3 separate regions of the Homo sapiens genome follow, and all the other regions are linked to region 1. Evidence: fine-mapped QTL for protein levels in blood plasma. A gene starts in region 1. Each other region holds a variant in brackets. All regions are shown on one strand. Distances are from middle to middle.

Region 1 (8,176 bases):
TTTTATTTTTGGAGTCAGAGTCTGGCTCTGTTGCCCAGGCTGGAGTGCAGTGGCGCGATCCCAGCCTCACTTCAACCTCCACCTCCTGGGTTCAAGCGACTCTCGTGCCTCAGCCTCCCGAGTAGCTGGGACTACAGGCGCCCACCACCATGCCTGGCAATTTTTGTATTTTTAATAGAGATGGGGTTTCACCATGTTACCCAGGCTGGTCTTGAAATCCTGAGCTCAGGCAATCCGCCCGCCTCGGCCTCCCAAAGTGCTGGGATTATAGGCATGAGCCACTGCACCTGGCTAGACTTCCAGTTCTAATTCTGCCCCTTATTAGCTGAGTGACCTTGAGGAAGTTACTTAAGCATTCTGAGCCTCAGTTTCCTCAAAGTATCTAACTCAGAGGATTGCTCTGAGGAGTACATGAAATGCTGCACAGCAAACCCTCAGCACAGGGCCTGGCATGCAGTAGGCGCTCACTGCACTTAGCTTTGATGATCCTTGTTGTTAATGGTGGCAGAGGGCTCAGCCCCAGCCCTCTGGGAGCTTACAGAAAGGCAAAAGCAACAAGTCAAGGATGAAAATGGTAGGGTCTGGTACATTTTCCAGCATACGGATACTTATCTTAGGACTGAATAAATTGAACCATATCATGGATGTTTTTGGCCTTTCGATCCATTCAGCATGTGTCCCAGCTCTGGAGGTACATCACATCAGCCAGGAGACTTGGGAAAATACAGACCCCCAACCCACTCTGGGGCTTACAAAATCAGAAGTCCCAGAGTCAGGGACCTGGAATCTTTATTTTTAATAAGCTGTCCAGTGGCTTCTGAAGCTCAGCTAGGTTTTCAGCACCTCTGCCCCAGTCTAACCTCCTCCCCCTGCCAGGTACGGATGGGGAAACTGAGCTCCAGAGAGGGACAGGAACTTAGCACACGTCAGTGTGTTCGATTCAGGGCTGGGAGCGTCCCCGGTCCTGCTTCCCAAGTGAGGACTCAGGGACACGGGATGGGGGTAGACTGTGTCCGTAAGCCAGGGACCCACTCCCCAGAGACAGGATCAGGGTATCAGCCCATGTGGCCTGCCTGACCCTCGCCACCCACATCAGAGAAACAACCAAAGCATACAGCAGGTGCCGTGAGCTCCCTGTCTGCCCATTTGAAGGTGGGGACCAAGAAGGAAGTATAATTCAAGATGCTTCCAGTGGCCCCATCTTTGGGGGGCCAAGTTTGAGTTTAGTAGGATCCTTAGGGGATGAGGGTTTCATCTAGAGGAATGGAGGCTTGCAGTTTATAATGATGGAATTAATGACCTCATATCTCCTGTGCAGCCCCAAAGCAGGCAATGACCCCTTTGCTCTGCCTCACCCTCTGCCCCGCCCAGTGCCCCCACTACCCACAATCCTGCAAACCTGCTTTCAGTTCCCGGCAACTCCCACGCCGGCCACTAGGAGCCATTGCAAACTGGCTGACCAGCCTCTGGTGGGGGCCACAAAGTAGGAGGCGATCACAGCCCCCACTGAGACAGCACTGAGTAGCAGATGGACACACGGAGCTAGGTGTCTGGCTGCCTCACAAGGGAGTGGATCCCATCGCTGCAGGCTGTTCAGATTCTAGAGACGATGGCCTAGCCTCGCCCCTCAAGGTGTGGTCTGAACTAGCAGCAGCAGCGTCATCTAGGAGCTTGTCAGAGAGGCAGCATCTGGAGCCCCTCTATAAATCCGAAGCTGAATTTTTATATAATAAATCCGAATCTGCATTTTCTTTTCTTTTTCTTTCTTTTTTTTTTTTTTCTTTTTTGAGATGGAGTCTTGCTCTGTCACCTAGGCTGGAGTGCAGTGGCACGATCTCGACTCACTGCAACCTTCGCCTCCCAGGTTCAAGCAATTCTTGGGAGGCCTCAGCCTCCCAAGTAGCTAGGATTACAGGTGCATGCCACCATGCCCAGCTAATTTTTTGTATTTTTAGTAGAGACGGGGTTTCACCATGCTGGCCAGGCTGGTCTCAAACTCCTGACCTCATGATCCACCCACCTCGGCCTCCCAAAGTGCTGGGATTACAGGCATGAGCCACCACGCCCAGCCCGAATCTGCATTTTCATAAATCCACAGGTGATTCACATAGAAACGGTCTAGGCTTTTGGGTTCCCTTCTAAGTCAGAGGTTCAGCTCCCTTGGCTTGTGGGCAATGGAGGGAGGACTGTCAGAAATGACTCTCAGGTCCCTCCCACCTGAAAACAGGAGTGCCAGGAAATAGACCAGCAGCTGTGCACCTTGGCTCCCACTGTGGACCCCTCTACTGGCCATGCTTGTCAGGGGGCAGGACTCTGTAGGCCCCGATACCCAGGAGAGGCTATTAATGATATCAACTATTCTAGTGTACAATTATCTCATGTGATACCATATGTATGTCATGTGCCAAGTGCTGTTGTCTCATTTACCCCTCCAATGTGAGGTGCCATCATTATGCCCATTTTAAAGATGAGAAAACTGGAGCTCAAACCGTGTAGTAACACAGCCAGTAAGAGACAGAATCAGGATTGACATCCAAGTTCAAGTTGACATCCAAGGCCCAAACTCAAGTTGTCCCATTGTGCCTCAGTTTCCCCAGGGCCTTGCTGTGATATCTGGTGGTGGGGGGCAAGGCTCATGATATCTGGGGCAGGAGTACTGGGCATGGAGTTTTTTGGGCAAGAGTTGAGATTCAAGTTCTGCCAGTGACTTGCTACGTGACTGAACATGTGGACAAACGGCTTTGGAAGGTGGAGGTGAAGCTCAGTTTTCTCCTCTGTAAACTGGAGTAGAGACAACCTGTTTCTGAGTGATGATGGAGATTAAATGAGGTTCTGGCCAGTCCTTGATCAATGTGATTTTGCTTGTGTCCAGGTGTCTGCCTCCTGCCCCGGTCCACAGCCAGGAGCCCCGGAGCCAACGGCCAGCCTGGAAGACTTACAGTTCTCCCTCTGAGGGTTGCTGTGGCTTTCCATGTTGTGGTGACTAAGTCCCTGTGTTTCTGTGCAGTCCCTGCTTCCTGGGACCAGGGAAGAATGGTCCCGTAAGTCTCACCCTAATGGCAAGTCTAGGACAGCTTTACTTTGTTCTCGTATAATCCTGGGCCCCTTCTCCCTCCTAGAGCCCCAAGTCCCCTATTCCAACTACCCAAGCCACCCACACTGGCATCATGCCCTACCCATCCCCTTTGGAAGAACAAACAGCAGGACAGGATGCCAGCGTGGTTCTCAGGCTTCCCAGGCACGAAGACTTGGAGCCTGAGGGAGAGAAGCTCCTGCCCGTGCTCCTCAAAGGAGCGTGAAAATACAGTGAGATCGTGGCTTGTGGTGGGGCCGATTCCATGGCTCTGGGAACTCAGCATTTGCCGAGGGGATGACAAGGCTTAGCAGCTGTGGCCTTGGTCCAGTTTGGGCTTGGGGAGGCACAGACTGGAGTGCTTCTCCCCCTACATCCATGTCATTCTGGGCTCCACCATGGCTCTCCTCTATTGCTCTGACCTTTCTTTGCTGTGTGGCTTTGGGCAAGTTGCTTACCCTTTCTGAGCCTCACTTGACTGAAAACTGGGGTTGCAAGTTGCTTACCCTTTCTGAGCCTCACTTAACTGAAAATTCCTTATGGGATTGTTGTGCATGTTAGACAAGGTAGATGTCCCACAGGCTCTTTGGTGAATGTCCCATGCAGCATTCAGGGATAAGGCCATTACTCCACAGAGGTGTCTCCTGTTCCCCTCTAGCTAGGGCGGGCGGGTCACTCACTGCCTAAGAGTCCAACAGCATTGATGCCCTTGCAGAATGAACCTTCCAATCAGCTAGGCATCCATCCAAATGCTGGCTCAGAGTTAGGCCAAGCATGTCATGTCTTGAGTGCCCCCATTCATAATGAGGATACATTAAAGTCCTCTTCAATTTGCCTGGTAAGTTTGATGAATGATCATGAATGGTCTTCACAGAGGCCTCACAAACTGTATACCCTTCACCTGGGAAGATGCTGAGGCCCAGAGAAGGCAAGACACATATCTGAGGTCACACAGCAGGGCTGGCCGGAGGCAGCTCTGAGTTCCAGGGAGAGAAGCCCTGCTTAGGCATGGGGGCCAGACTGTGCCCAATGTGGGGCCCTGGAGGAATTCTGCCAAGGGGGTCCTTGGCTGCGATTTTACATCCCCACCCCCTCCACACCCAAATAGTCAGCAGTGCATTCCAGGGCCCGGGCCTCCTTACCTTTGAGAGGAGGCAGAGGAGGGAGAAGGCCAGGAGGTGGGTCTTCGGTGTGCCTCTCATGTCCCCTGCAGAGCCAGCTTTGAGCCTGGGAGGCGGACCTGTGAGTCTTTATGTTCCGGCAGCTGTGAGGTCACTCCCAGGCACACACAGGCACACGCACGAGTACACACGCGCGCGCGCGCGCGCGCTCACACACACACACACACACACACACACACACAAACACACTAGCTTTTTCATTCCTTGCTTCGCTTCCCATCCTCATGGCTCAAAGGATGAGCCCATTTACCTGAAGGTGAAACTGTGAAGGCCACCAAGGGGGTGCCTGTCCGTGTGTGTGTGTGTGTGTGTGTGCGCGTGTGTGTGTGTGAAAGCCTGAGCCAGTGCCAGCACCAAGAGCCTGTGACAGCTTGCAGAGGCCTCTCCAGCTCCTTCCAGCCCAAGAGGGTCCTAGCCCTGCTGTAGTTGTGAAGCCCTATTCCAGACCCCCTGTCCGAACCCCAGCGGGGCTGCAGATACCAGAAGCATTCAGTAAACAACCCCTTTGCAGAGCTGACCCAAGGTCTCCTAAGCTCCGTGGCCCTGACTCTGGGTAGCCGCGGCCCAGCCTGCGGTTTCTGGCAGGCAGATTGGCAGCCACCCAGAGGTGGGTGTGACCCAGAGCAAAACTTCCCTGGGCGGCCTGTTTGCTCTTGGCAATAAGGGGCCTCCCTTGGCCTGCCTCCCGGCTCTGGAAGGGGGCCCGTGGTGGGCGAGTCCGGGCAGGCTGGACCTACTATGTGCCAGCGCTTGCTGGGCACCGCTAGATGATGGGGTCAAGCCAAATCCATTTGGTTTCATTCGGCCGCCTCTGAGTTCGCCTCTGCAGGAGCTGGAGGCACAACACTGACCTGAGGACAAGGCCCAGAGAGGGAGAAAACAGAGGGAAAACAGGTGGAAGTTCAGGAATACCAGGCAAGGTCCCTTGCTCAGACCAAGAGTGAGGGACACTTTCTGATGGAGGTGCCATTTCAGAAAGCCAAGAAAAGAGAGGGTGAGAGAGGGCAGAATGTTCCAGGCCAAGGGAACAGTACGTACCAACGCCTAGATGTCGGACATAGCATGATAGCCTGCTTATTCTGGGAGCCAAAGCGCCTGGTATGAGTGGAGCCTTCTGTGCAACGGGAAATGGTGATGTCTGTGAAGGGTGAGACACACAAGTTCACATCACCAAGATTTGGGGACATCTACTATGTGCCAGCCATGGGGGCGGGGGACAGAAAGACATGGGCTTTGTTTGTAGAATTTGGCAAAGATAAAAGAGGTGATGTCAAGGGCTGTCTGGGGCCCCCATTACCTCCACCAGTAGTTGTCCAAACCTCAAAGTGATCTAGCTGGATAGCAGAGGTTCCAGAATGGGCGATTGGTGAGGAAGAAGTGTGACTTGATATAGTGGCAAGACGGGGATTGTGAGCATGGAGGAGATTCCCCACGGGTGCTGTCCCATCGGAAGAGGCAATGGAAACGGAAGGTGAAGATGAAAGTGTGGGATTTGATTATTTATGGCAGGAAGAGGTGGCCAGGGTGGAGATGGGGGTCTGGAAACTTGGAGGAAAAGAAACAGAAGGGATCTTTTAAATTTTGTTTTATTTTTTGGGATTCTTGTGGAAATGCTAATGTTTTAGTCAGAAGCATGCCTAGAATAATTTACATCCACAGTGGATCATTTTTAACACCCCTCTTCCTTCATAGTACAAAATTATTTTCAGTAATAATCATGAAACAAAACAAATATTTTTCATGTATGAATTAAAATTTGCACTTACCAAACAAAATCATTACCATTCACAGTTCACACTGTTTTACTCTTTTAAAAACTGTAAATACAAATCAAAACTCCAAGTAGTTTCGTAAAATGACAAAATTGAAATACCCTTATCGTCATCTTTCCCATCATTCTGCGTTCATAGTTGATTTCACTCTACTGTTTAAACACAGAAATACAGCTGGGCCGGTGGCTCACGTCTGTAATTTGGGAGGCCAAAGTGGGAGAACCACCTGAGATCAGGAGTTCAAGGCCAGCCTGGCCAACATGGTGAAACCCGTCCCTACTAAAAAAAAAAATACAAAAATTAGCCGGACGTGGTGGGTGCACACCTATAGTCCCAAGTACTCAGGAGGCTGAGGCAGGAGAATTGCTTGAACCCGGGAGGTGGAGGTGGCAGTGAACCGACATCTTGCCGCTGCACTCCAGCCTGGGCGACAGAGAGAGACTCTGTCACACACACAAAATAATAATAAAAATAAATGCAGAAATATGAATGCTGGACGGTGGAGACAGGAATGCATTCAAAGCAAGCTTGGAAGATTCCAGAGTTGTGAGGAGCTTACTCTCAACTGATGTGTGTTCCTGAGACCACATGCTCTGGGGGCAACTATAGGATTCTTAAAGTTCTCCAAGTCAAGTTGACTTCCATGTAGAATATGTTTATTAAAGGATAAGAATAAAAATGTGCTGATTTGAAGCTTTACATATACATTATTAAACCCCAACAGTTACTGCACCAATTGTTAGAACTTAGATCAATAAAGGGTATTTTCAGGACAAAGTATTTTACCACTGAAATTATTTAGATCTGCCATTGCACAGTGATCATAAAAGCAGACTGACTTCTCATCAGTTTTATTTTATCTTTAAATTCTGTAGGCCCCCCACCCGTTATTGCCTGCATCCAGGAAAGGTCACTCCGACTTTCCTGTCCTCCCTAGGCCACTGATATTAATAAAAATAAAAGCAATTGTGTATAGCACCCAGCAAGATCCAGCCCTTGTGCTAAGCACTGTTTATAAAAAGCAGCATTTCTAATCCTCATGATCCACATCTCAATTGAAAAAAGTGAGGTTCAGAAAGGTTAAGTAACTTGCCTAAAGCTACACAGCTAGAAAACAGAGCCAGGTTTTCAGTGCGGGTTCATATGACTCCAACACCCAAGTTTCAGTTTTTGATGCTGTTTATTTCTGCTACTGTCCATAGAGCTCTCTGTGATAATGTTTTTTAAGTTGAGAGGTAATGTATATACAGAAAAGTGCTTAAAGTGCACTAATATGAAGTGTAGAGCTTGACAACTCTTTCTTTCTTTCTTTCTTTCTTTCTTTCTTTCTTTCTTTCTTTCTTTCTTTCTTTCTTTCTTTCTTTCCTTTCTTTCTTTCTTTTTTTTGAGACAGAGTCTCACTCTGTCTCCCAGGCTAGAGTGCAATGGCATGAACATGGCTCACTGCAGCCTCAGCCTCCTGGGTTCAAGGGATCCTCCCTCTTCAACCTTCTGAGTAGCTGGTGGCATGAGGCAGCATGTTTGGCTAATTTTGACTCTTGACATATGTATATACATGACTGTATATACCCATGTGATAATCACCCAGGTCAAGCTACACTTCCAGAAGTTTCCTTATGCCCCTTCCAAGACTCTACCCTCTGTCCTCCAGGTACCCGCTATTCTGACCTCTGTGGCCACTGATTAGTTGTTCCTGAAAGGAACAGTTTTAAGCCACTTCTATCTCTGAGGCAAGAAGGAAGACGGGAGAAATGAGGAGGTGTGAGGAAGAGAGTTGGAGGGAGACACGCTGGTCCCAGCCATGTCCATAGCAGAGCAAGGAGACCTTGACAATGAGGAGGTGAGGTGGGCCATGGGTGCCACGTATGGTGAAGAAGACAGGGCCATACGGGGCAGGGAGGTGGCAAGAACGAGGCAGAGTGCTATGCCCACCTAGGGCCCTCTGAGTCAGAGCATGGATTTTTCTTGGAACTTTTTCTGTCTGATAACTGAGGATGGGAAAGTGTGGGCAGTAGGGGCCCTGGGGCCTGGCCAGATCAGGAAGCAGGCGTCATCATCAAGGGTGTTTGGTGATGAAGTGTGAGGGATGGAGCTTGCACACACAGTTCAGCATGAGTGGGTGTGGCAGGAGCGGTGGGAGCTGCCACTTT
Region 2 (8,176 bases), 12 kb before region 1:
GAATTGCAGGCAGGATGATAATAATAGCTTCAGTTGAAGAACATGGAGGAATTACCTTCCTAATACTCACAATACCCCTGCGGAGTGGATACTCACTATTTTTTTTTTTTTTGGCAGAGTCTTGCTCTGTTGCCCAGACTGGAGTGCAGTGGCATGATCTTGGCTCACTGCAACCTCCACCTCCTGGGTTCAAGTGATTCTCATGCCTCAGCCTTCCAAGTAGCTGGGATTACAGGTGCGTGCCACCACGCCTGGCTAATTTTTGTATTTTTAGTAGAGATGGGGTTTCACCTTGTTGGCCAGGCTGGTCTCGAACTCCCGACTTCAGGTGATCCGCCCGCCTCGGCCTCCCAAAGTGCTGGGATTACAGGCGTGCTCGCCACTGCACACAGCCGGGTACTCACTTTATACAGCCATCCTGTGGGGTGGGCACTACTATTTATTCCCATTTTACAGATCAAAAAACTAAAGCGCCAAGAGTTAGGATAACGGTTGCTAAAATTTATTTTATTTTATTTTATTTTGTTGCAGACTACCACAATTACTACTTGAGACTGTCACTATGACAGTTATTACTGTTACTACTTGAGGCCGTCATTACAGCAGTTACTACTGTTACTGCCTGAGACTTCATTACAGGACTGAACGAGGGGACGAATGTAGAAATGAAAACTTAAGACAAAAGAAACTGTTGTAAAGGAAAGGGCCAGGGGAAGAAGAAGAGAACTCCCTGCTTCTAGTGAGCAAAGGCAGTCCCTGAGCTTCCACAGCCCTTCCTATTTATTGGGTAGAATGAGCAGGGAGGAGGAGGTAATGACTGGTTAGCTGGTTGATTGATCACAGATTCATATTGTTACTAACAGGTTTCAATTAGGCCTAATCACAAGAAACACTATGCTTGGAGCGTGACTGCCCTCAGCATTCCTTCTGGATGGCAGAAACAGTTTGTCAGTTTGCCAACATTCTGCATTTATGAGAAATAGTCTGCTGCTTACTCATATAGCTTCCAGTGGTATACTGAGTTGATCATGACCCTCAATCTTTCGGCCTCCAATATTTATTTATTTATTTATTTATTTATTTAATGAGACAGAGTCTTGCTCTGTCCACCAGGCTGGAGTGCAGTGGTGCGATCTCGGCTCACTACAACCTCTGTCTCCCCGGTTCAAGCAATTCTCGTGCCTCAGCCTCCTGAGTAGCTGGGATTACAGGTGTGTGCTATCACACCCAGTTAATTTTTGTATTTTTAGTAGAGACGGGGTTTTGATGTGTTGGCCAGGCTGGTCTCGAACTCCTGACCTCAAGTGATCTGCCCGTCTTGGCCTCCCAAAGTGCTGGGATTACAGGTGTGAGCCACCGCGCCCGGCCCTAAGTTTTTTTGTAAATCACGTAACACTTTCAACAATCCTCTGTGTTGAGTATTGCCATTATCCCCATTTTAAAGAAGGGGAAACTGAGGCACAAGGAGGTTAAGTACTTTGCCTAAGATGACAGCACTAGGAAATAGCAGAGCCAGGATGCACACCTGGGCAGGTTGGCTGAGCCCACTCACTCTACCACTGCACAGTGGCGGCTCAGCTGTGAGGTCATGGGCCTGAGTCCCAGCTCCACGACTCCAGGGTAACTTGTTAATCACTCTGGGTCTCAGTTTACTCATCTCTAAACAGGGAGTATTAGTGGCACTTTCCTTTAGGAATGTCCCAAGGATGACGTGCAGTGGTGTGGACAGAGTGCGTGGCAGAGAGAGCCTTATGTATGGGAGTCCCTCGGTGCACATTCCTCATTCTTGTCCGTGTTCTCCCTGTTTTGGGGGATGTTATCAGAATTTTGCCTGGAAATGTGTTTAGGGTTTATCCTTGCAGAACCAGACCCATGGAAATTCTCAATCTGTGAGAGACCAACAGCCATTCTCAAGAGTCAGATAAACTCAGGTTGGACTAGCATCCCACCCCAGCTGCAGACCAGCTTTTAGACAGCTCGCTTTCCCGGGTGTTTCCTTATCCCTGAGCTGGAGTTAGTTATATTTGCCATGCAGGGGCTCTGTGAAGGTTACATGGCTCAAACTCAGCATGTGATTCTCAAACTAAGGTTTCTGGAGGGGGTGATACCTGAGATAAGTGTTGGGGGCTGGGCAGCAGGGGCCTCTGTGACCAGCAACCGTACCTGGGGTGGGTAATTTACAAACACTGTGTCTGGGAATTGCCCTCATTCTCAGAACCCTCCTGCCCTTCCTTGTCCTGCATCTCCCAGGCTCCCCTCTCTTCCACCTTCCCAGCAGGTTCGACTCATGGGAGGCATAACTGGAAACTGGGGGATAGCAGCAGGCAGAAGCCAGGGCAGGTCTCCCCACCTCCATCTACTTTTTGTTAGGTCTGCGAGGCTGTGTCTCCTTAGCGGCTGCAGCTCCCAGCAGACAGCCTTGCCAGGTCCTCTTCCTCTGCCTGCTGGTGCCAGCTCTGGGCTCTGCCCTCCCTCTGCCCCTCCGCCCCGAGGGCTGGTCTGGTGTTGAATTTCTCCTCTTGCATCACACGGTCCCCTACTTGGCCTCTCAGATGGGTGACTAAGTCCTCTCATTAAATTCCTTTTGTTTTATTATGTTGAGTGAAAGACGTCATTCATTATAGAGTACCTGCTGTATGGTTGTATTAATGAGAAGTTCAAGAACACGAAAGCTCATCTATGGTGATAGAAATCAGAGCAGTGGTTGCCTTGGGGAGCAGGGGGATAACTGGAACAGAGCCAGAGGGAACTCCCTGAGATGATGAAAATGTTTTATACCTTGATTGAGGAGTTGGTTACATGAGCGTGTACGTTTATGAAGACTCGTTAAACCATATGCTTAAAATCTGTATATTTAACTATGGGTAAATTATACCTTAATAAAATTAGTTTAATAAGAAGAAATCCCTGTTTAAATACCAAGAGTGTTTTCTAATTTCCTGCTTGGATCCTAATGGAAATACAGTTTTACTTTTTAAACAAACACAGGTAGACCATGGAGGAAAATGTAAAATATATGTATTTGGTGTTGGGTGTTTTTTTTTGTTTTTGTTTTTTGTTTTGTTTTGTTTGTAAACAATAAAACATGAGACTTCGAACAATTTCACCCTTGGGTTAGTTGATTTCAGGCTATGCTCCCCAGTCCCTGGGAGGCAGCCTTCATTCTCCCTGCTCTTCTCTGGTCAAAAACGCTGGGAAGCACTGGTCTGTATAAAGTGCTAGTGCCTAGCACATAGCAGGCGCTCAAGCAATGTTAATTATTGGCTGGGCGCAGTAGCTCACGCCTGTAATCCCAGCACTTTGGGAGGCCGAGGCGGCGGGCGGATCACTTGAGGTCAGGAGTTCGAGACCAGCCTGACCATCATGGCTAAACCCCATCTCTACTAAAAATATATTTAAAAAAAAAAAAAAAGCCGAGCATGGTGGCATGCGCCTATAATCCCAGCTACTCAGGAGTCTTGAGGCAGGAGAATCACTTGAACCCGGGAGGCTGCAGTGAGTCGAGATCGTGCTATTGTACTCCAGCTCCAGCCTGGGCAACAAGAGCAAAACTCCATCTCAAAAAAATAAATAAATAAAAAAGTTAATTATTATTAATATGAATTGGGTTTCTTGGATCACTTGAAGGCCTGTCTTCTGGCTTTCTTTAAGACCATGTGATTTCACCTTGTGAGGTTCACAGAGAACTCTGCCCCTGAATTCTGCCCCGGATAATGGGAGGGCTTTCTCAGAAAACACAGGCCTGACACACAAGATCACGCATAGGCTTGTATTCAGGAACAATTTTACAAACTCCAGAAAAGGCAGCAGGAGATCCAGAATCTCTGTGTGCCTTCTCTTCATCCTACCCCCAGAAAAATGGCCAGTCCAGCCCAGCACCTGCTGCAGCCTCAATATTAAGGGACTGCTTGTCCCATCTCTTGCCCAGGGGAAGTCGGAGAGAAAGCTCGCCCGTGTGCATGTTTGATATAGGCTGTGTGTGTAGGCAGGGAGTGGGCTAGAGGACCCTGGACACCTTGGCCAGCCTCCTAGGCAGTGAGTTAGAGGAAAG[G/A]GGACTAGGTCTTGCACCTCTGCCATACCTCGGGATCCAGACAGACCAGGCAGCGTGTTAATATTGGTGTTCTGCATGGTGGACCCAAGCTAAAGTGTTGCCTGCAGCCAAGGGCCTGGGCACGGACCATCTTCCATCAGCCCAGGGCCCAGGCACAGGGCCACCAGCTGGGGATGGTGGACACCGTGTCCCCATTCCCAGCCCGGCTCTAGAAGGCACTGTTTTGTGGACTGCGACCCCTGGAGGGTGGGCAGGGCCTGGACAGGCACAGGCGGCGCTGGGTCTCCAGTCGGCAGAAGCGGTTCTGGTTGGACACCCGGGTGGCCATGCCCAGCCCACAGGTGGTCGAGCAGGGTCCCCAGGCCGTGCTCCATTCTGGGCAGGGGACACCAGGGGGCAGGGAAGAGACAAGGCCAGAAAACTGGGGTCCTAGGGGGGAAAGAACAAGAGTTAGCACTGAGCAGCCAGGGCTCAGCAGCTCAATCAACCCACCTGCCAGCGGCCACGGCAATCTTGGTCAAATGGCTCAGCCTCTCTGCATCTCAGTTTCTTGTTATGTAAATTTCTTAACAGTGGATGGCATTGAATAAAATAATGGGCATGAAGTGCCTAGCACAGTACCTGGTACTTGTAAGATTTCCATAAATATTAGTTATTTGGCAACCAGAGTGTGTTGGTCACGATGGTCCCTCAGTGAACCATGGTTTTCTCGTCTCTTTGGATAAACAGCATTTTACAGGCAGGGGGTGCCCAGCCTGTGTGGAGTGGTGCTTTGGCCCAGTGGCAAGGATGCTAAAGATTCCAGGATTCTTGTGCCAGGAACAAGATGGCAGGTTCACCATGGTCTAGCTTTTTCTCTGCTCCAAGTCTCCCTCTGTGAGTATTTTGGTGTCCTTCCTTCTAGTCTTACACTAGAAGTCCTCAACTAGGGTAATTTTGCCTCCCAGGAAAGGTTTGGCAATATCTGGAGACAGTTTTGGTGATCACAACTGGGGGGATGCTACTGGTATCTAGTGAGTAGAAGTCAGGAATGCTGCTAAGCACCCTGCAGTGCACAGGAAAACCCCCCCAACAAATAATTACTTGCCCCAATTGTCACTAGTGCTGACGTTGAGAAACCCTGATTTCTACCCACATGTGTGTGCTGTGTATGCATGTGTATGTGTAGATATACCTGTATACGTGCATAGGGACACACTTAGTTGAGATCGAGTTGGAAATACACCTTCTTATCCTGCTTTTATCCATAAGGTGAACTCACTGGTGTTTTCCTATGTATTTAAATGGATATATCATATTCCATCACAGGGATAATAACGGCTACCTCTGATATAGTACCATGTGCCAGGCACTGCTACAGCTGCTTAACTTGAACAAACTCAAGTAGTTCTCACAACGCTATGAAGTGGATGCTCTTATTGTCCCCATTTTACAGCTGGAGAAACTGAGACACAGAGAAGTTAAGCAACTTTCTCAGAGTCACACAGCAAAAAGGGGATGGCGGGGCTGTTGCAGATGCCGTGCACCTGACCCATAACACGTGACTACCTCTTGTGGGTGGCAGCAGCATTTATGAAATCAATCCTCCTCTTTTCAGTTGCCTTTTTTAGAAAGTCACATTCATGTGATAATTTTCAAAAAGCAACACAGCAACAACAAAAATCTCTAAAATTGAAGATTTATAGTGGGACGGTGGGAGGTAACTGTCTTTTCTCCATCTCTAGCCCACCCCCGGCCCACATTCCAGAGCAGCCACTTTGCCTCGTTCAGTTTTGAGTTCCTTTTTTAGTAAGCCCAAATAATAATAAATTACTAAATATATTAATATGTATCAATATATTATAAATACGATAATATTATATATTCTAAGAGCTTAGCTCTATTATATCTCTGAAATGTGAGAATTTGGTTCACATACCCTAACCCACCTTTCCTCTCCCGGCTCTGTCACCCAGTTTTTATTTTTAATTATTTATGGTTTTAAATTACACATCTCAAAGGCAGTGGCTTTTTGTTTATTGGTTTTAAAGAGGGAGGCCTGGTGACCCTCCACTCCTCTTTCTTTTTTCCTCTTTTTGAGATGAAGTTTCGTGCTTGTCGGCCAGGCTGGAGTGCAGTGGTGTGATCTGGGCTCACTGCAACCTCTGCCTCCCGGGTTCAAGCGATTCTCCTGCCTCAGCCTCCCAAGTAGCTGGGACTACAGATGCCCGCCACCATGCTAGGCTAATTTTTGAATTTTTAGTAGAGACGGGGTTTTCCTATGTCAGCCAGGCTGGTTTCGAATTCCTAACCTCAGGTGATCCGCCCGTCTTGGCCTCCCAACGTACTGGGATTACAAGGGTGAACCACAGCGCCCGGCCCTCCACTCCTCTTTCTTATCTCCCTCCTCAGCCTCCGCCCCTCCCAGCTTCTGATGTGTCCCTGGGTCCTGGTACCCAGGAAGCCGCCCCCCACCCCACCCCCTAGGTGGCCCTTGGCGCCCCCAGGCAGTCCTGCCCTGACCTGGACCACCGCTGCGCTCACCTTGGGCTGGAAGGGGCTGGGTCCCCAGTCCCCCTCCTTGGCCGCACACCCACTCAGGGCAGCACTTGCCCAGGACCTCGACCCTCCTGGGGTGGGGGCAGTCCCAGCTGGGCAGCCGCACATCCTCGCTGCACAGCGGCACGCAGGTGAAGCCGCCGTCCTCGCAGCGGCAGCGGATGCTGCAGTGGGGCTGGAAGGTCTCCCCTTCCCGATACAGGCGGCCGTTCACCTCACAGCTGCTGTCGTCCTCTGCCACTGCGGAGGAAAAACCGCACCCCCATCGGTGACCCGCAAAGCGGCACAGCCTTCTCTGCAGAGCTGCCCAGATCCCGCTGCCTGAGGCAGCTGCCTCACAGTAGCTGGGCCCTGCCCAGGGCTCCAGCCCAGGATATGCACCTCTCCCCAGCCCTCCACCAGCCTGCTGGGGCACCCTGGATCCCGGCACAGGGATTGCAAGAAGACAGGCCTGGATTGACCCCCCAAACTCTGCCCTTTCTTAGCTGTGAACCTGGGCCAAGTGATTTCACTTCTTCTTGCCTCAGTTTCCACATTTGCAAGCTGGGATATAATGGTACTTATTTTCCAGGGTGGTAGAGACTACTCGGAATGATAGGCGTAATGATCACAACATAAAAGAGACCTTCCATAGGTCCTAGCTACTCTGTTATTATCATTAGTATAGTTACTATATATTAATAAAGTTTAAGTATTCTATACACGCTGAGATTTCATGCAACAAAGTCGTTGTCCACTTGTGCTGTCATCACTGTCAGGTCAGGGCTTAACTTGCTGGCTGTGTGTCTTTGAGTAAGTTACTTAACTTCTCTGAGTGGCCTGAACTACAGCAATGATGAGCTCAGTAATCGTAACTTCAGGTTCCATGGGATGACATGTCCGTACCCTCTAGCACACAGTGCTAGGCATGGCCTAGGTGCTCAGGGAACACTCTTTCAATGAAGCCCTCAAGATATGGGTGTTATTGCCACTTCCTCCACTGGACATGAACTCCTTGAGGGCTGGGGCGGCCAGTGTGCGTCTCTGCACCCTCCGGTGGGCTCAGAGCCTAGGTGCGACACACAGTACTGTAGGAATGCCCCTTCAGTGAATAGCTGGCATAAGCCTTGGCACATGAGAGACCCTGATAAAATAGCCCTACTCCTTATCATTCCAGAGATATTTACTGTTTCCCGCCTGTGTGCCAACCACTGTGCTCCCAGACAGAAAGAGGACAGTTCCTGCCTTGAGGGACTCATGGGCTTGGGAAAGGGGGACGGGTGTGAGGGCATCATCTCCAAGACAGAATGAAGTAAGAGCGCTGGTGAAGCGTGTGAGCTGCTCAGGAAGTGCAGACGGGAAACAGCGTGTGTGTGAGACCTGGGTGGCCACTGAGCTACGTCTGGGGAAAGGACTCATTAGCAAACAAGTTCTCCCAGATCTTCTGAGAAAACCTTCCAGTAGGTCTGTACACACACAGGGGTTTCAGAACCAAAACCACACATACTTAGGTTCCAACTCTGGCTCCCACTTGTGGGGCCTGGGGCAAGTTATTTTGCCTCTCTGAGCCTTGGTACCCGGCTCACAGGGCTGCTGGGGGATTAGATG
Region 3 (8,176 bases), 13 kb after region 1:
GCCAGGCTTCCTGACAATGAAGTGGTCCTCATTTGCTGGGAGAGGGTGTTGTCATAGGGATCATGCCAGGCATGCAGCTAGTGAGGCATAGACCAGCCTGCTGGGGAGCTGGAGGAGGTCATATGGAGGATGGAAATAGCTTTTAAATTAACATGAAAGCTTATGCACAGGCCTAGCATGCCCGGGAATAGGCACTGAGCCTGGCACTTTAGGCGCTAGATACATACTTGCTGTATGAACGAATAAACGAATTGAAAGACCCAAGCTCTTATCCCAGCTCTATTGCTGTGTGTCCTTAAGCAAGTTTCTTGGCCTTGCTCAGCCTCAGTTTCTTCATCTGCAAAAATGGTAGAGGGGTGAATCCCATCATTTTTACAACTTCCTGGCTCTAGGGGTGTATGTTTCTATGCTTGAAAGCATTTATGGGGCGGCAGCTCTGACCTGAAGAGAGGCAGGGAGGGAGGGCCTCAGGAATGCAGAATCCCTGAATGTCAGAGACAGGGTGATTCCTATAGGCTCTGGTGTCAGATGAGTTACCAGAGTTCAGGAGACCCCACTGAGTTGGAACCTGTTGGTCAGAAGGGAGCAGGCACCAGGGCAGGGGTGGCTTTGTTCTGGACCAAATATCTCTTGGAGTAGGAAGACAACAGGTTAGGTTATTCCCTTCCCATCCAAGAGCACCTTCATCAGTCAGGATATCCAGGCTCCAGGGACTTAGCCCTCACTGTCTGAGTCCCTACAGATGCCATTATCTGCCTGATTTATTCATCCACCTGCCCATCGACCCACCTGTCCATCAATCCACCTGTCCATCAATCCATCTGTCCATCCATCCATCCTTCCATGTTTGTCGGTCCATTTGTCCATTCATCTACCATTTGGTCACTCATTCCATCCATCCATCAATCCATCCATCCATGTATCTATTCTTCCATCCAACCATTCATTCATTCATCCATCCATCCACTTATGCATTCATTCAGCAAACACCGAATGTAATAGGTCATTCCCTACTATTAAGAATAAAAACTAAGGTCTCTGTCCACAATGAGCTCACAGACTAGAGGGCAATATAGAGACAAGCAAAGAGATGATTCCAGCACAGTAAGTGGGAGATACTAGGTACTGAGGGTGAAGAGATGGAGGACCTAACCCAGCCTGGGAGGTGGAGGAGGTGGTTTTGAAAGGCTTCCTGGAGAAGGTGACACCTGAGATGAGTCTTGGAGCAAGATTAGGAGTTGTCCAGGTGAAGAGGAAAATAAAACAGAGCAGCAGGAGAGTACAAAGGCCTGGAGGTGGCCTGACAGCAGGAGCTATTTGGGGAGCTGCAAGTAGCTGAGCCTGGATGAAACCATGAGAGCCAGTTGGAGGTGGGGTGGGATGAAGCTGAGAGGCTCTGTGTAGTTGGGGAGGACATTTGCAACTGGAGGTAGGAATGGGGACTGAGGCCTTGGGCACATCCGAGAACTATTTGGAGAGGTAGAAAGCCTCTGGGTCAGGCATGGGAACTCCAGGTTCCTTCCTCCCTTCTACCCCTGAGGGATGTTAGGCAACTCACCTGGCTTCTCTGGGACTCAGTTTCCCAGCTGTGACGTGACAGGTTGCCCTTTTAGCCTCTTGGGACTCTTCCAGCTCTGAGGGAGCTCCTGAGTCACATGTGGTCAACAAAACCAATGCCCACGTGAACATCTGGTCTGGCCTTAGGAGGGAGTTAATTGTTCCCAGTCTCTATGTGTGTTAGGGGGAGGGTGGGGGGAGGCCTTGGTCAGGGGGACCTTGGTTAGGAGCCACCCCCGAGGGGCTCCCAGTCATGGGATGACAGGACATGCTGAGAAGGGAGTGAGTCACTGGCCAGTCATCAGCTTGGGCCCCAGGGTCTCGGGGGGGCAGGGGAGCCCCATTCCCTGCTCATCACAGAGCCTCCTTCTCAAGATGGCTGACCCTTTGTTAGAGCAGCAAAACCCCATGCTACACTCTAATATTTAAAACAGGCCCAAGGACAGTGGTTTGGGATGAAGCAAATGGTGAGAGCCCTCACCCAGAGCAGCCCCCAAGGCCCCACCGAGGAGCCCCTCCAAGTCTAAAAGTCCAAACACCCGAGTCCCTCAGCAGGAGTGACAGGCCCAGAGTCAGTAGGGACTGACTGGAGCTCACACAGCACGTTCATTCGCTTCTCTCCTCTCCTGGCTCTGACACTGCCCTTCCCCGCTCCTGAAGGATGGAAGATAAAGCCAGGCTCCTCCACCATCCCCTGCTCTCTGCAGAGCCTCCCTTCCCTCGAGGAGGTCACGTGTCCGGTGCCAGGTGGCTCCTCTCAGCTCAAGCCCATGGTGGCTCCTTGGCAGCACCATAGGAGACATAGCTGAACCATGCTCTGCCCCGGGCATGACCCCTGCAGAATTTGCCTCCATCTCTGGGTCTGTGTCTTCACCTTTTCAATGGGAAGAGTGAGAGGCTGGGATAACTAGCATGGCACAGGGCTTATTATGTGTCACGTGTATATGCAATCCTCACAGAAACCCCCTAAAGGAGGCATCATTATTATCCTCATTATACAGGTGGGGAGACTGAGGAACCAAGAAGTTGAGTGACTTGCCCAAGGTCACATAGCCAGTAGGAAGCAGAGCTGGGATTTGAACCCAGGTGGCTGGCCCTTGAGTCCCTGCTCTCACTCATTGTGCTATATTGCCTCTTAAAAGATGACCCAAAAGCACCTGCTAGTTCCTGCTGCCTGGCATCTGGACAGGAAGATAGAGGTGATTCAAGGGAAAGGGGGAGAAGCTCTGCTCATTTACTCACTATGTGACCTTGGGCCAGCCACTTCCTCTCTCTAAGCCTCAGTTTCCAAGGTTTGTTGTGAGAATTAAAGGGCTGGGGCAGTGACATTCAGGAGATGGTAGCAGTGATCGTGGTTAGTATTCCTTCAGTACTCACTCCTGCCCCACGGCCCCCTGCGGACACTCTCTTTGGGTGGGGAAGAGGTGGCAGCTGTAATGGAGACCTTTTCTTCCATCTCTGAGCTACCCGGGTGTGTCCCCAGGAGAAGTTTCCCCTCAGATCCCCGGAAAGGACCAGCAGGGGAAAGTCTAGCCACACCCTATCTCCTGGGCGCAGCCCCTGCTCCATGCTCAGATCCCGAGACCTGGTCCCCTTACGGGCCAGTTCACTATCAGGGACCGGCGTGGGCATATGGGCTGCCCAGGCGGCAGCTAGGGGCATCTAGACCAGCTTCCAGAAGCCCAGGGTGGAGGGCACGTGGGACAGGAAGACCCCAGTGCCCCAC[G/C]CCACCAGCCCCATCAGCTCCCCTAGCCCCAGAGAAAACACTTCATTACTGGAAGCCCAGCCAGGCGGAGGGGGTGGAAGTAGCCTTGTTGAAAGAAACCGCACGAGGTCAGCCAAACCTCAGCCCCTCTTGGCCAGCAACCCACAGATCAACCACGTGGGGCTGGCTCTCCGGGTGTTTACGGAAACACTGGCCCTGAGGTCAGCCCAGCTGCTGGGCTGGGATCCCCTGGGACACCCCCAGGCCTCAAAGTGCCAGCTTGGCAGGAGTCTTCAGAGGCTGCAGCTGGGGCCTTATTTGCCTCCACAGTCCACCTGGGAAGTGGAGCGCAGAGAAGCCCGGTGGGCAGTGGAGATGGGCCAGGTCTTCAGGCTTCCCTGGACAGCTGCTTGAGCTGGGACCAGGGGCCAGACCCTTTCCAGACACCCCTGGGAAAGGGACATCATCTCGGGAGAGGGACATAGAAAGTGGACTGTGGAGGCAGATGGCCTGGGTTTGAATTCTGGCTGTGGCCCTCGCAGGCTCTGTAACTCTGAGCAGTTTACTTAGCTTTTCTGTGCCTCAGTTTCCCCATCTATGAAATGGGAATGGTGATAACAGTACATACTTCACAGAGGTGTTGACATAATTAAATGATTTTAGTAAGTGATCTAAATAAGTGATCACTGGCTGGGCGCAGTGGCTCAAGCCTGTAATCCTAGCACTTTGGGAGGCCAAGGCGGGCAGATCACTTGAGGTCAGGAGTTCGAGATCAGCCTGGTGAACATGGCGAAACCTCATCTCTTAATACAAAAATTAGCCGGGCGTGGTGGCACATGCCTGTAATCCCAGCTACTTGGGAGGCTGAGGCAGGAAAATCGCTTGAACCTGGGAGGAAGAGGCTGCAGTGAACCAAGATTGTGCCACTGTACTCCAGCCTGGAAAGCGAGACTCCATCTCAAAACAAACAAATAAATAAATAAATAAATAAATAAATAAACACAATTTTAAAATAAATAAATAAATAAGTGAGAATTTAATAGATGATCCAAGTGGTGTGCTTGGAACAGTCCTTGTCACAAACTAAGTGCTACCCTTAGTGCCGCCGCATCCTACCTAGTGGCCTCCCTCCTCTGAGATCCTCCTGCTCTGTTCAGGTTGGACCGCGTGCTCCTCTGAACTCCCAAGTGTTTGTTATGGAAATCTCTTCCACTTAAACGTTTGCTGAGCATTCCGACCATGAATAATGAGGAACTGAGGTTACAGAGACAAATCCAGTTTAGATCCTGCTCCAGGGAGCTTCAAAGCTAAGGCAAGGATGGGAGGTGAGGCCTGTGCGCTTGGGCAGGGTGACTATAATCCCTAATTATAGTCTCCATGGTAACGAACTGGGGTAACTAATTGGCTGTCCAATGTCTGTGTTTGTGGGAGCAGGGGCTACATGGTCCCTCCACTGCTCCGTCCTGGAGACCAGCTCAGAGACTGGCACCAAGTTGCTAATGACCGCCTGGCACTAGAAGGACTACATGAACACCCGATGCGCTTGGAGCCCTGGCCAAGCTGCCCACACTGAGCCCGTGGTTTCCTTCACCCTCAGCACCTTAATGGAGTAGGGCGTATCATTCTATGTTCAGAGAAGCAAACTGAGGCTCAGAGACGCCAGCCCAATGTCCCACAGCTGGCGGGAGATACAGCTGAGGCTGAACCCACATCCAAGTTCAAAGCCTGCATTTTTAGCTACTCAGCCATACATGATCTTCCTGCAATGTCAATGTAGTATCAAATTACACAGCAACCCTCAGCCTGGGAGTTCAGAGGAGCACCCAGCCTGACCCAGGAGGATCCAGAGGAGGGGAGGGAGGACTTTCCAGGCAGAGGGATCCACTTGCAGAAAGGCGGGGCTGGGCCGTGCGCTGCTCCCAGCGACCTGTGTGTGGAATAGCAACAACTGTGGTGTGCAGGTCTGGGGTGTGTGAATTTTGGGAGCAACAGGTGGTGGGGTTGAGGAACATCTGCAAACAGCCTTGAATACCGGGGCAGGGTTTTAGACTATCCTGTGGGGTAGGAGTCCCCAGAGAGTTCCAAGCAGGGCCTGCATGTGGCCAGGATGGAAGATGAATTACAAAGAAAGGAGTGAGAGGCTGGGAGAAAACCTATTTGCTCAAATAACAAGGCTCAGTATCATTACCATGGAGGAGCTGTCTCCCCTAAATCAAAACTTGCCTGCCTGGAGTTCCACTTCATTTTAAACAATGTGTGCATGTATTGGGGGGTCCCAGAGCCTGGGCATGGAGCAGCTAGGCTTCAAGTCCTTGGAGCCCCGAAATATGCCTTCCTTCCCACCCCAGCCCCAGCGCCTTCAATGCCTTCCTCTGGGGTTAACCCCATTGTGGCCACAGTGGCTGCCAGCAGGGAGGAGGCACAGAGGTGGTGGGAACAGGGCTGAGGGGCACACAGGATCCTCAGCAGCCAGCTTCACCCCCCAGCTTATCCAGGATTCAGACAAGTCCAAGTTCAGATCTTGGATCTGCCATAGACGTGAGATGCGACCCTGGCTGGGTGCCTTGAGGTCTTGACACCTGAGCTACCACACTGGTCACATAAAGACAATAATCAATGCAAGGGCAGCGTGAGGACTGTGGAGACCCTGGGCGGCAGGTGTGCAGCGCGGCGCCACCCCTGCTCTGGTACAGTGTGAGTGCTCAACGCTGTTGTTATTACTATAGCCTACAGCAGAAGCCGCCGTCTGGTCTGGGAAGGACTTGGAAACGCCCTGCTGTGGCCTAGAGATGCACAGAGAGCATCTGTCCCTCTGCCCAGGACCTGACTTAGCTCAGGGAGGCCAGTTTCCCCCAGTGAGCAATGGGGCCCCTGCTTGGAGCCATCTGCGTGTACCCTGCAGGGCAGAAGCTGGTGAAGAGTGGAAGAGGCAGTGTTCTGGGTTCCATCCCTTGGGTTTTAGGGATTAAGCCATCTTGATTCTACCCTCAGCTCCATCCTTTTCTAACAATGCATCCTTGGGCAAGTTACTCAATTTTTAAGTGCCTCCATTTCCTCATTTGAAAAATGGGTATAATCATAGTCCCTACCTCATAGGATCATTGTAAAGATGAGATGAAATCCAGCATGTAAATGCTTAGCCCAGGGCTTGGCACATGGTGAGCACTTGGTAAATATTAGCAATCATTGTTTCCAGGCTGTCGACACAGAGGAGGAGACATGGGACAAGGAACCAGTAAATAATGGGAATCAAACCATGCTACAAGGGGATAAATAATAAAAAGGGTATAATATGTACAAGTGGAGGGAGAGACGAAGGCCATGGCAAGAGGTCCAAGGCAGGGCCACTGCTGGGAAACAGGCCCAGCCAACCTCAGAAAGGCAGTCAATAAAAATAATAGGAACAGGCTGGGTGCGGTGGTTCACGCCTGTAATCCTAGCCCAGCACTTTGGGAGGCCTAGGCAGGTGGATTACTTGAAATTAGGAGTTCTAGATCAGCCTGGCCAACATGGCGAAACCCCGTCTCTACTAAAAATACAAAAATTGGCCAGGTGCGGTGGCTCACGCCTGTAATCCCAGCACTTTAGGAGGCCGAGGCGGGCGGATCACGGGGTCAGGAGATCGAGACCATCCTGGCTAACACGGTGAAACCCTGTCTCTACTAAAAATACAAAAAAATTAGCCAGGCGTGGTGGTGGGCACCTGTAGTCCCAGCTACTCAGGAGGCTGAGGCAGGAGAATGGCGTGAACCCGGGAGGCGGAGTTTGCAGTGAGCCGAGATCACACCACTGCAGTCCAGCCTGGGCGACAGAGCGAGACTCCGTCTCAAAAAAAAAAAAAAAATTAGCCAGGCATGATGGTGCACACCTGCAATCCAGCTACTCAGGAGGCTGAGGCAGGGGAATCACTTGAATCCGGAAGGCAGAAGTTGCAGTGAGCCAAGATCGTGCTACTGCACTCCAGCCTGGGTGACACAGCGAGACTCTCTCTCAAAAAAAAAAAAAAAAAAAAAAAAAAAAAGAACAATAACAGAATTTTCCCCACAAGTGAGCACTAAGGGCATGCTACATGCTGTGCTAACATGCTTTGTATACAATATCTCATTTCCTTCCCACGACAACCCTGGGAGGCAGGGCTGGGGCCAGGTTGAGGCAGCAAGGTGACCAGGGTGCAAATCTACCGAGGCCCTCACCCCGGGGCCTGAGCAAGTGCAGGGTTGGCGCCTCAGAACAAGCACCTCCCTAAATGTTATGCCTTGAGCACCTGGCTGGCTTCACCCTAGTCCCAGCCCTGCTGAGAGGTTGGTATAATATTTAGTCCCATTAGATTGATGTGAAAACCAAAGTCCCCCCACATGAGGCACCTGTCCAGTGAATGTCACATAGCTGGGGAGGAAGAGGCAGACCCCAGGATTTTGAAGCCTAGAGTTATTTTTACTCTGAGGAGCTGCCTCCCAGCCTGGACATGGAAGGTTCCAGTCCACCTCCCAGTGGTCCAATAACTGGAAGAGCTGCTTAGAACCACCCTCTTCTGGCTGGCCTGGGTGGCTGGGAGAGCTGGCCTCCTGGGTGGAGGTCTGGAGATTCCTCTCCACATTCCTAGGGGTTAAATCTGGGGACCCGGGTTCCCAGCATCAGCCATCACGTTCCCCAGAAGGAATCTCTATTCATAACAAACCCTAAAGGTCACTCGTCTGGGAAGGAGTCTTCTGTCTCCACCCCAGGGCAGGACAGAAGGCCCCAGGCTTTGTGAGAGCATCAGGTCCCCAGAGGAAGATCACCTGCTTTTGGCCAGCCTGTGAGCCCCTCTTCTTCCTCTGGGTCTCCTCTGTAGATGGTATCTAAAGAGGATGAATAAACATCCCAGTTGGAGATGAATGGCCATTGCCCGCAGAGAGCAATTGTGCGCTAAAT

Direction of the effects. Positions count from the first base shown, and alleles are read on the strand shown. Strength reflects both the effect of a copy and how common the allele is.
For the plasma level of the protein whose gene starts at base 4,297 in region 1, G is the high allele of the variant in region 2 and A is the other (moderate association).
With allele C in place of G in region 3, the plasma level of the protein whose gene starts at base 4,297 in region 1 is higher (moderate association).

What was found. PIP is the posterior inclusion probability: the model's chance that the variant is causal. The UK Biobank Pharma Proteomics Project read protein levels with antibody pairs (Olink). The fine-mapping took linkage between variants from a reference panel, not from the people measured, so its PIPs are less certain.
Region 2: its variant is fine-mapped to the plasma level of the CCN5 protein (UK Biobank, PIP 0.97).
Region 3: its variant is fine-mapped to the plasma level of the CCN5 protein (UK Biobank, PIP above 0.99).

Annotation. Positions count from the first base shown.
Region 1 is chr20:44,711,490-44,719,665 of GRCh38, reverse strand. It overlaps CCN5 (cellular communication network factor 5), which reads right to left and starts at 4,297. Exons shown (of 4, transcript NM_003881.4): 1 at 4,216-4,297. The coding sequence starts at 4,275. It overlaps KCNK15-AS1 (KCNK15 and WISP2 antisense RNA 1), which reads left to right. Exons shown (of 5, transcript NR_132377.1): 4 at 2,873-3,041; 5 at 7,678-7,804. It overlaps LOC124904911 (a long non-coding RNA gene), which reads left to right and starts at 4,892. Exons shown (of 2, transcript XR_007067598.1): 1 at 4,892-5,725. RefSeq lists a silencer at 4,704-4,998.
Region 2 is chr20:44,723,391-44,731,566 of GRCh38, reverse strand. CCN5 (cellular communication network factor 5) reads right to left here. Exons shown (of 4, transcript NM_003881.4): 3 at 6,575-6,829; 4 at 3,756-4,480. The coding sequence ends at 4,260. All of the region lies in intron 3 of KCNK15-AS1 (KCNK15 and WISP2 antisense RNA 1), which reads left to right. Among named protein-coding and RNA genes, the nearest start is that of CCN5, 12 kb to the right of the region's middle. RefSeq lists an enhancer at 4,333-4,858. The variant G/A (reference allele first, on the strand shown) is at 4,052.
Region 3 is chr20:44,698,274-44,706,449 of GRCh38, reverse strand. No RefSeq gene overlaps it. Among named protein-coding and RNA genes, the nearest start is that of CCN5, 13 kb to the left of the region's middle. RefSeq lists an enhancer at 3,574-3,653. The variant G/C (reference allele first, on the strand shown) is at 3,284.